Linked DNA regions of Homo sapiens: region 1 is linked to region 2. The links come from fine-mapping of genetic effects on gene expression. A gene starts in region 2. The other region holds a variant in brackets. All regions are shown on one strand. Distances are between the middles of the regions.

Evidence for each region. PIP is the estimated chance that this variant, and not a neighbour inherited with it, causes the effect. A credible set is the group of variants that fine-mapping cannot tell apart.
Region 1: its variant is the best candidate, but not a certain one, in a credible set for the expression of MYOF in transverse colon (CEDAR, PIP 0.55).

What each region holds. Positions count from the first base shown.
Region 1 is chr10:93,449,505-93,454,882 of GRCh38, reverse strand. MYOF (myoferlin) reads left to right here. Exons shown (of 54, transcript NM_013451.4): 3 at 2,742-2,833. Among named protein-coding and RNA genes, the nearest start is that of MYOF, 30 kb to the left of the region's middle. The variant C/T (reference allele first, on the strand shown) is at 3,054.
Region 2 is chr10:93,479,292-93,484,669 of GRCh38, reverse strand. MYOF (myoferlin) reads left to right here and starts at 2,336. Exons shown (of 54, transcript NM_013451.4): 1 at 2,336-2,563. The coding sequence starts at 2,476.

The DNA of each region.
Region 1 (5,378 bases), 30 kb after region 2:
TTTAGCCTCCTGAATAGCTGGGACTACAGGTATAAGCCACCATGCCCAGCTAATTTTAAAAAACATTTGTAGAGATTACATCCTGCTATGTTGCCCAGGCTGGTCTTGAGTTCCTGGTCTCAAGCCATTTTCCCATCTTGGCCTCCCAAAGTGCTGAGTTTACAGGCGTCAGCCACTCTGCCCAGCCTTTTTAATGCCTTTCTGAAACGCCCAGCAGGTCTCAGGCAGGTTGAGAGGGAATTCCACTTATCTGTAATTTCCCCAGAATCCAGAACACAGCCAGCTGGACTACAAGCTCCATGAGAGCAAGAGGCCCCTTGGGTTGGTCATTGTGGATTCCTAGCACCTGACAGAACTCCAAGAATAAAGCAAATAAAAAATGCATTTATGTGAGAGTGCTTCCTACTTCAGATTTTGAATCATCCCAACTCATCTCTTCAAATTTGAGATTGAGATCAAGCCACGTGACCAATGGCAGAGAGAGATGTGCTGTCATGCGAGCTGGCATGTCCTCTGCAGGGAATCAGCCATCTTATTCCATTTTGTTTCCAACATGTTTTTTTTTTCTTTCCTTTCATATTGCAGATGTACTTATCAAGTAAACTGTTTTATAATTGAAACCAAACACAAATGAAATGTCAACCCCAAACCCACTGGGATTGCTGGTGCTGGGTGTGTTCTTTTTTTTCTTTTTTCTTTTAAGATGGAGTTTTGCTCTTGTTGCCCAGGCTAGAGTGCAATGGTGCGATCTCGGCTCACTGCAACTTCCGCCTCCTGGGTTCAAGTGATTCTCCTTCCTCAGCCTCCCAGGTAGCTGGGATTACAGGCATATGCCACTACGCCTGGCTAATTTTGTATTTTTAGTAGAGATGGGATTTCACCATGTTGGTCAGGCTGGTCTCGAACTCCTGACCTCAGGTGATCCATCTGCCTTGGCCTCCCAAAGTGCTGGGATTACAGGCATGAGCCACTGCGCCCGGCTCTTTTTTTTCTTTTTTGAGACAGGGTCTTCCTCTGCCACCCAGGCCAGAGTGTAATGGCACAGTCATAACTAACTGCAGCCATAACTAACTGGGCTCAAGCAATCCTCCCCACTCAGCCTCCCAAGCAGCTGGGACTACAGGCACACACCACTGCGCTCTGCTGATTTTTAAATTTTTCACAGAGACAGAATCTAAGTTGTCCAGGCTGGTCTTGAACTCCTTGCCTCAGCCTCCCAAAGTGCTGGAGTTACAGGTATGAGCCACCATTCCCAGGCTGGGTGTGTTCTAAGAGAAGCTCTGAGGCCACGTGTGGTGGCACATGCCTGTAATCCCAGCACTTTGGGAGGCCAAGACGGGTAGATCACATGAGGTCAGGAGTTTGAGACCAGCCTGGCCAACATGGTGAAACCCTGTTTCTATTAAAACTACAAAAATTGTCCAGGTGCGGTGGCTCACGCCTATAATCCCAGCACTTTGGGAGGTCAAGGCGGGTGGATCATGAGGTCAGGAGTTCGAGACCAGCCTGGCCAACATGGTGAAACCCTGTCTCTACTAAAAATACACAAATTAGCAGGGCATGGTGGCAGGCGCCTGTAATCCCAGCTATTCGGGAGGCTGAGACAGGAGAATTGCTTGAACCCGGGAAGTGGAGGTTGCTGTGAGCTGAAATTGTGCCACTGCACTCTAGCCTGGGCAACAGGGCAAGACTCTGTCTCAAAAAAAAAATTAGCTGGGTATGGTGGTACACACCTGTAATCCCCAGCTACTGAGGAGACTGAGAACTTGTTTTTTTTTAGAAGTGCTAAAAATAATTTTTTAAGAAGTTCTGAAACAAGTTTTCCTTCCATTCCAAGCCCACTACAAGGAGGATCAAGTCATCATTTAATTATTACCTAATCAGTCAAAGGCATCAGTGACGCTTTATCAATCTTTTTTTTTTACTTTTGTCATTAGGAAGCAACTTACTGCATTAAAATGAGAGTCTCAGAAAGGTCGGTATATTATAGCATTGACCGACCATGGTGGAACTTAAAATGAGAGGCATTTTAGAAAATGTTTTCTTAGATTATTCATCTTCTTTGTTTGATAGTAGTATGATTAAGAAGAGCAGATAATTTAAAACTAGCCATTGAAGAAAATGTTTTCACATATACCCTGCATTTTATTCTTTTTTAATTTTTTTATTTTTGTTATTATTATACTTTAAGTTCTAGGGTACATGTGCACAAAGTGCAGGTTTGTTACATATGTATACATGTGCCATGTTGGTGTGCTGCACCCATTAACTCATCATTTACATTAGGTGTATCTCCTAATGCTATCCCTCCCCCCTCCCCCCACCCCACAACGGGCCCCAGTGTGTGATGTTCCCCATCCTGTGTCCAAGTGTTCTCATTGTTCAATTCCCACTTATGAGTGAGAACAACACCCTGCATTTTATTCTTGCAGCAGTTGTGGTAGTCGTTGAGTCCAGCTCTTGAGTATGAAGCAGGGGTGTGGTCACCTGGTTGAAGCCACAGAACCTAGAAAGCAGGAAGCCAGGAGTTGTCTACAGGTCCTCTAAGTCGACATCTGGTTTGCTTTCCTGCCCCCTCAGCTGCCTTCAGGTTTAGAATTTAATCATTTCTGCATAACTTCAAAAGATTGTCATTGGTGAAAATAATGACCCAACATGTAGTACTGGTGCATCTTAGTGTAATCTCTGCTCCTTCTAACAGCCTTTTTTTTTCTCTTTTTTCAAAACCTTTCTGTGAACAGATTTTGGAGTTTGACTTGAGGGGTATACCACTGGACTTTTCATCTTCCCTTGGGATTATTGTGAAAGATTTTGAGACAATTGGACAAAATAAGTAAGTTGTTTTCACCTGTTTTTCTCATTTTAGGTATTACTATCTCACTGTTGTTTATTTTGTTGAAGAGACACATCTTTAATAACGTATTATAATACTTCCAATATAAATGTGCTTTAATTCCATGCCCCGCTCCCTTCTAAGCCAATAGCAGATGTGGCTAATCCATCACAGCACTTTTTCCCAATGACTGCTTTTATTCCAAAAAAGCTGCAAACAC[C/T]GAGCCACCTAGACTAGTTTATCAAACTTGGCACTTAGAGTGAAGCCTGTTCACATGCCTACAACTTCTTGGTCAACTGCACTTCCTACCTCTGGCAGTTTATCTGAACTGTAGTGATATTGGATACAACCCAAATCACTTCTTCTGATTATTTGTGGCCTATACATGTCTCATTCAAGTTTTACTTTCAGCCCCATTTCCATGTTAATGTCTCCTTCGCCTTTTAATCCCAACAGACCTAAACAGACCTTAATCCTTGCCTTACTGCCTCTTTCCTTTCACATGGGGAAGGGTCACGGTGGTGCCCGTGGTGACACTGAGGGTTGTCCTCTGAGTAAAATTGGGAGACTTCCCAAACAGGTTCCCGTGGGACAGAATGATCTTAGTATTAATAAATTCACCCTAGTCCTGGATCTGGACTTTGGCCTTGTAGACCCAGTCGTATGTTACCAATTCAAACTAACCAAGTTCACAAGAGACTAAAGGTTTTTTTCTTTTTTTTGACTCTGTCACCCAGGCTGGAGTGCAGTGGCACAATCTTGGCTCACTGCAACCTTCACCTCCCAGGTTCAAGCAATTCTCCTGCCTCAGCCTCCCAAGTAGCTGGAATTACAGGCGTGCACCACCACGCCCAGCTAACTTTTATATTTTTAGTAAAGACAGGGTTTCACCATGTTGGCTAGGCTGGTCTTGAACTCCTTACCTCAGGTGATCTACCCGCTTCAGCCTCCCAAAGGGCTGGAACTACAGGTGTGAGCTACCGTGCCCAGCTGATACTAATACTTAAAACCAGAATACCTGCTTATTTTCCTTCTGGTGGAAGTCAATTGCCTAGTGACAGGGCATTTCTACCCTCCAACCCATGAATTTTCCTTCAAGTCATACCACATGGGAAGCCAAATTACTTTGTATCCTCGATTTCAAGATGTTATTGTTTATAAAGTATACTATCAAATTAATAAATGGTTAGGGGCCAAAAAAAGCGTGATATTTAATGCCCCCATCAATTGTAAGAAGCATTTCAGTTTTTAGTAATGTTAGTACATTTAAAAATGTATGTCTTAGGCACATCTGATATAATCTGAAGGCTGCAGTGAGAGCAAAAATTTAGGATAAATTAGTTGAGGTAGGTGGTCACATGCTCTGATTGCTTGAGACAGTCCTGGTTTGCTGTCCTAGCACAGTGATTAATAATGCCCCTTTTGCAGTCAACGTGGCTGGGTTTGGACAGTAAATTATTATTATTTTTTGTTTTTGAGATGGAGTCTCACTCTGTCACCCAGGCTGGAGTGCAGTGGCGCAATCTCAGCTTACCGCAACCTCCGCCTCCTTAGTTCAAGTGATTCTTGTGCCTCAGCCTCCTGAACAGCTGGGATTGCAGGCATGCACCTCTCCACCTGGCTAATTTTTGTGGTTTTTGTTTGTTTGTTTGTTTTTTGAGATGGAGTCTTGCTCTGTCGCCCAGGCTGGAGTGCAGTGGCACGATCTCAGCTCACTGCAACCTCAGACTCCTAGGTTCGAGTGATTCTCCTGCCTCAGCCTCCTGAGTAGCTGGGACTACAGGCGTGTGCCACCATGCCTGGCTAATTTTTGTACTTTTAGTAGAGATGGGGTTTTACCATGTTGGTCAGGCTGTTCTCGAACTCCTGACCTCATGATCTGCCTGCCTCGGCTTCCCAAAGTGCTGGGATTACAGGTGTGAGCTACTGCACCCGGCCTATTTTTGTGTTTTTTAGTAGAGATGAGGTTTCACCATGTTGGCCAGGCTGGTCTCGAACTCTTGGCCTCAACTGATCTGTCCACCTCAGCCTCCCAAAGTGCTGGGATTACAGGGGTACAGTAAATTAGATGGTCACTCCAGTTATTGGGGTCTTCTGCTTACCGGCATCAAAATAAGAGAGTCTGCACAGACATGGACTCCCTGGACAGTGCTTTGATAGGCACTCCCATCTTCGCCTTTGATGACATCCTTTTTACCATTCTCTGTTGCTGACCGATGCCCCCTGCATATTTTTCTGTAACTATATAAATACATTCTGGGCCAGGTGTGGTGGCTCATGCCTGTAATCCTAGCACTTTGGGAGGCTGAGGTGGAAGGATCACTTGAGCCCAGGAGTTAGAAACCAGCCTGGGTAACATAGTGAGACCCCATCTCTAAATAAATGAATACATACCTGCATACATTCTAGCAGGTTCTGGTCCCACTCTCTTGCACTGGAAACTATTCTAGCTTTTTAAGTTTCTGTCGCATATCTCAGCTGCGAACTATTATATGATTATTTATTCCCCACCCCAACTCCCAAAAGCCAGTTTTATTTCCCATAT
Region 2 (5,378 bases):
AGAATTCACAAAGTATGAACACATGTATGTGTGTACCTATATATATGAATATATGTGTTGTATGTAAAGTTCATAACATACAAAAGAATTTATATCACCAAACAAAGGTCATGAGCAAGCAAACCTAAACTGTTTTGTTGTTGTTGTTTTCGGTAAAAACTACAAAGAAAAGCAAGGAAATCATTACCATAAAAATCAGGAGAGTGGGCCAGGCATGGTGGCTCATGCCTGTAATCCCAGCACTTTGGGAGGCCGAGGTGGATGGATCACCTGAGGTCAGGAGTTTGAGACCAGCCTGGCCAACACGGTGAAACCCTGTCTCTACTAAAAATACAAAATTAGCCGGGTGTGGTAGTGCACGCCTGTAATCCCAGCTACCTGGGAGGCTGAGGCAGGAGAATTGCTTGAACCCGGGAGGTGGAGGTGGCAGTGAGCCGATCACCCCACTTCAATCCAGCCTGGGCAACAAGAGTGAAACTCCATCTAAAAAAAGAAAAAAAAATCAGGAGAGTGGTTACCTCTGGGAGAAGGAGGTGGATATGATATATGGGGTATTCCAGGGGCTTCTGGAGGACTGGCAATGTTCTGTCTTGACCTGGATGCTTGTTAAACTGTCACGTTTATGTAGTATGCATTTTTCTGTAAATATATTTCACAGTAAAAATGGCAAATAGAAAGCAGCCAGATAAAATAAAAGTAATAATCTCTATATTCCACTAAAACTGCCAACATGTCCACTAAATACAATAATGAACACAGCACTGGGTAATTGGTTCTTTGCTTTAAGCCTTGGAGAAACTCGTGGAGACAGAAGAATTCTTGTAGGTTAAGTCATGCTTATTCAATGTACTTGAAATGTTTATTTACAGGTGGGTCTGCTTGATGTGTGTTCTAAAGCAAAAAGAAGCCCAATGTTTCTTCATCCCAAGTTTTAGCCTTTTCTTCTGAAATATAACGAGATCCTGATTTAAAGTCAGCCTGCACTAACAGAAACGCTGTGAGACCACAAATAAGCATGAACTTCTTACATGTGCAAATTACTGTGTGCTTTGTGCCAGCTCCTATGCTATGACCTTTATCTTATAACAGCCTTTATCCCCAGTTCATAGATGAGGAAACTGAGGAAGAGAGGGGTTAAGAAACTTGCTCGCCAGCACGGTGGCTCAAGCCAGTAAAGCTCAAGCCAGTAAAGCTCAAGCCACGGAGGCCGAGGCGGGCGGATCACAAGGTCAAGAGATCGAGACCATCCTTGCCAGCATGGTGAAACCCCGTCTCTACTAAAAATACAAAAAAAAAAAAAATTAGCTGCGTGTGGTGGCGCACGCCTGTAGTCCCAGCTACTCGGGAGACTGAGGCAGGAGAATCGCTTGAACCCGGGAGGCAGAGGTTGCAGTGAGCCAAGATCGCTACACTGCACTCCAGCCTGGTGACAGAGCGAGACTCCGTCAAAAAAAAAAAAGAAAAGAAAAGAAAAGAAAAGAAACTTGCTAAGATGACGTAGCTCAGGGTGGTGAGGCAGAGTCTCACACTCAGATCTGGCTGACTAACCCCAGGCCGCCTCTTGTGATCTCAGCCAAGCTGCACTGTCTTCATGCACCCTCTGGGACAGAAAGACACCATGGGCAGCTGTAGGTCCAGAAACAGTGGGGAGTCACTTCTCCATTTTCACTGAAGGCAATTGGCAGCATTTGAAGAGCCGGGAAAACTTAGGCGCCCAGCTCTCACCTCTGAAGGGGTTTTGAAGAAATTCTATGTTCAGTCCTTTATATATATATATATATATATATATATATATATATATATATATATATATATATATATATAATTATTTATACATATATGTAATTATTTATATATCCCATGCCTGGATCGCGTTTACTTGAAATAAACGCTGTCATTCGTTTGCCGTCCAGTAAGAGGCACCCTTTAGCTGCTTTAAAAAAGCTGAACATAGGGTTACTGAGTGGGTGTGTTCAATGGCGTGAGAAGTAACAGCGAAAAGTCAAAAGCAAATAATGACTAAAGTTTTAAAACTCCTTGAAACTCAGAAAAGAATGAAAGCAGTGACGGAAAAATCAATTAATTCAGTTTCACGAACCATTGCTAAAAGGCAGCAACATTTTAGTGGTTTCCTGACCTACCCGTATTTCTTAGCTCCAAATTCATGTTGGTTTCATTTGTCGCACGGAATTATTTTTAGTTTAGGGTTTGTCCTTTTCACTTCCACATTTCCCGAATTCATAAGTCTGTGCCTGCGGCACTGCGTAGACGCGGGGAGTTCGGTATCAGTTTACACGTTGCCTTCAGTAAAATCCGCCAGAGGTCCACCCATTTTGCCTTTTCCCCTTCCTTGCCCTGGGAGAAATCCTCCCTTCACTGGGAGAGAACTTCTCTCCCAGGGCGGTGCGACCCGGAGCTCCAGCGCCCTAGTCTCCACTTCGTTTGCTGAAACTTGCTTTCTACCAGCTAAGAACCATGCTGCGAGTGATTGTGGAATCTGCCAGCAATATCCCTAAAACGAAATTTGGCAAGCCGGATCCTATTGTTTCTGTCATTTTTAAGGGTAAGAAAAAGTTTTCTTCTTTTTCTGAAGTCCTGTTTTGGAATGTTAGTTTCTTGAGTCACCTTCTTGAAAAGTCTGCATTTAGACAGCTGATGAAGCCAAGTCTCTCCAGCAGCGTTTGTTACCTGCGCAGGACAGGGGAGAGGACCCGTTTCTGGGGAAGGCATTTAATTTTCTCCAGGGCTTGAGACTCATGGAATGACCTGATGTTTTAGCTCTAAGAGTGTGATTTCTGTAAGCTCTTGGCAGAAAACGTATTTGCGAATCACTAAATTTCAGGTATCAACAAACATCTGTATTGGTTCAAAGTAAGTTTCAGTAGTCTTAGATGCATTTTTTCTCTGCCTGTGAGAAATGGGTAAAGGAGGAAGAAGAGCAATTAAATTGTTGGAGACACCATTACTCCTTGAACCAGCCTGACGCTGCTTTGATTGTCACTGGGTTTCTGGGAGGTGGGATGGGTGAAGTTCATAGTTTTATTGAGTTTTCCTGCCCTTTTGTGCCTTTGTAATTGTTTTTATATCTAAACTGTTGGGGAGCTTTTTTTGTACATTCTGTAGCTTTTAAATTGCTCATTGAGGAAAGAACTCTGGACAGCTAGTTTGCAATTTGGGGATCTAGTTCTATCTTGCCTGCTGAATGACCTTGGGCAAGTTACTTCATTTCTCTGGGATCTCAATTTTCTTTTCTGCAAAACAGGCGAGAAGGGTTTAGACAAGATCATCTCTAAAAACCTCATGGTTGGCTGAGCACAGTGGCTCCTCAACCCTGAGCCAACTTTGGGAGGCCAAGGCAGGAGGATTGCTTGAGCCCAGGAGTTTGAGGCTACAGTGAGCCGTGATCACGCCACTGCACTCCAGCCTGGGTGTAAAAATAAATAAAAATAAAAGGCTCATGGTAATTTTAAAAGGCTATTTTTCTATGACACTTGATTGCCATTGCAGGGGAGGGGACAGGAATGCTTGGTGTCATGGTACAATTTGATGTAAGTGACTTAGTTTTGGCTAAAGTGGGGTTTCTAAATCTCAGTGTGGAGGCTTTATCTATTTTGTTTGTCATTGGTAAGACTGCCAACTCACTTCTTGGCAAGAGGGATGGGAAAGAGAGGGAAAGGCAGAGAGAGTGGGAGCATGGATAGACATGTGTTTCCTGACCATGCCTTGCTACATTTCTCGTTTCTTCCAGGAGCCTGACTGCTACTCCCTGTCAGTTCCTGAGGCATCTATACCTTTCGCCTTTCTGTTTCCCGTTTTTCCCCTTTATTTCTCTTCTTAAACCTCTCTCTCTGAGGATGAGCAAGAAAATGAAAGAAATGAAACTCAAAGCTGGCTGGCTGGGTGTGGTGACTTCTGCCTGTAATCCCAGAACTTTGGGAGGCTGAGGTGGGTGGATCACATGAGGGCAGGAGTTCGAGACCAGCCAGGCCAACATGGCAAAACCCCATCTCTACTAAAAATACAAAAATTAGCCGGGCATGGTGGCACATGCCTATAATCCCAGCTACTCGGGAGGCTGAGGCAGGAGGATTGCTTCAACCCAGGAGGAGGAGGTTGCAGTGAGCCGAGATCATGCTACTGCACTCCAACCTGGGCAACAGAGTGAGACTCCGTCTCAAAAAAAAAAAAAAAAAAAAAAAAAAGCTGGCAAATTGTTGGTTGGTTAAAAAAAAAATCTAAAGGGCAAAAATTGGATTTAAAAAAAATTTAAAAAAATTTTTTTGAATAAGACTGGGTCTTGCTATGTTGCCCAGGCTGGTTATAATTCCCTTGCTCAAACTTTCTTCCCATCTCAGCTTCCCAAAGTGTTGGGATTACAGGCGTAAACTACCACGCCCAGCTTAAAATTGGGCTCTTAAAGGACAATGAGGTTTGAAAATCTGGCTAGTGAATATCATGGACTCACGTTATGTCAGAGTTTATTTACATGTGTTAGGTTTTATTAATTTTTTGTTTTCTTGAAGCAGTTACATAATAGAGACATAATATGAAGATTTTACATCCTTCATCATTGACATATAAAGACATTAAAATATATTTGGATCAGTCCGATCATGTAATTATTTAAGTATTATAGATTATAGAGGAATTGGAGTTAATACTATATTGAAATCTGACTTGTTATTTGTCTGGAGTTTGTATGCATTGATGAAACATTTTAAATGATGAAAAATATATCTAAGTCAATGAATGCAAACAATCAATTGAAAGTGGAAAACTTCAGTTAAGTTGGCAAATATAGTCTATACAAACAATTACACATTTAACTTTAGTCTCTTTTCTGGCCTCCTTTTTTCATACAAATCGAGTGGTAAAGTCATTCATTCATTTAGCTAACAAGCAACCTGACAGAGGAAAGGGCACTCAACTCAGAGTAGGAACATCTGCATTCCAGCTGACATTAACTCAATATCTGATTTAACCACCTGGGTCTCCAATTTCTCAGCTGTGGCATGATGGGAACTGGTCTTTAGATGCCTTCCGTCTTTTAGATTCTAATTTTCTAGTTCCAGGTATTGAGTTAGCTGCTCTCAGCAAGATGTGAAATGCATTGCCTTAGGTGCTGGAGGGGATATAGCAACAAACACAGCACTCTTCTTGCTTTCAGTCTATGTCGGTGGTTTAAAATCCTGGTGATGGCAAACCCTTTACAGGTGTGTTCCCAATTTTGAGCACTGCGTAAAATTAAGTAACATTAAGTTCTGACTGAACTGAGGATACTTATAGCAAAATACTGTCCATCAGAGGGAACATGGAACAAAGGCAGACACACTTCATAGTGTGGAGTGGGGCAGGGTATGGTAAACTGGAAAAAGCCC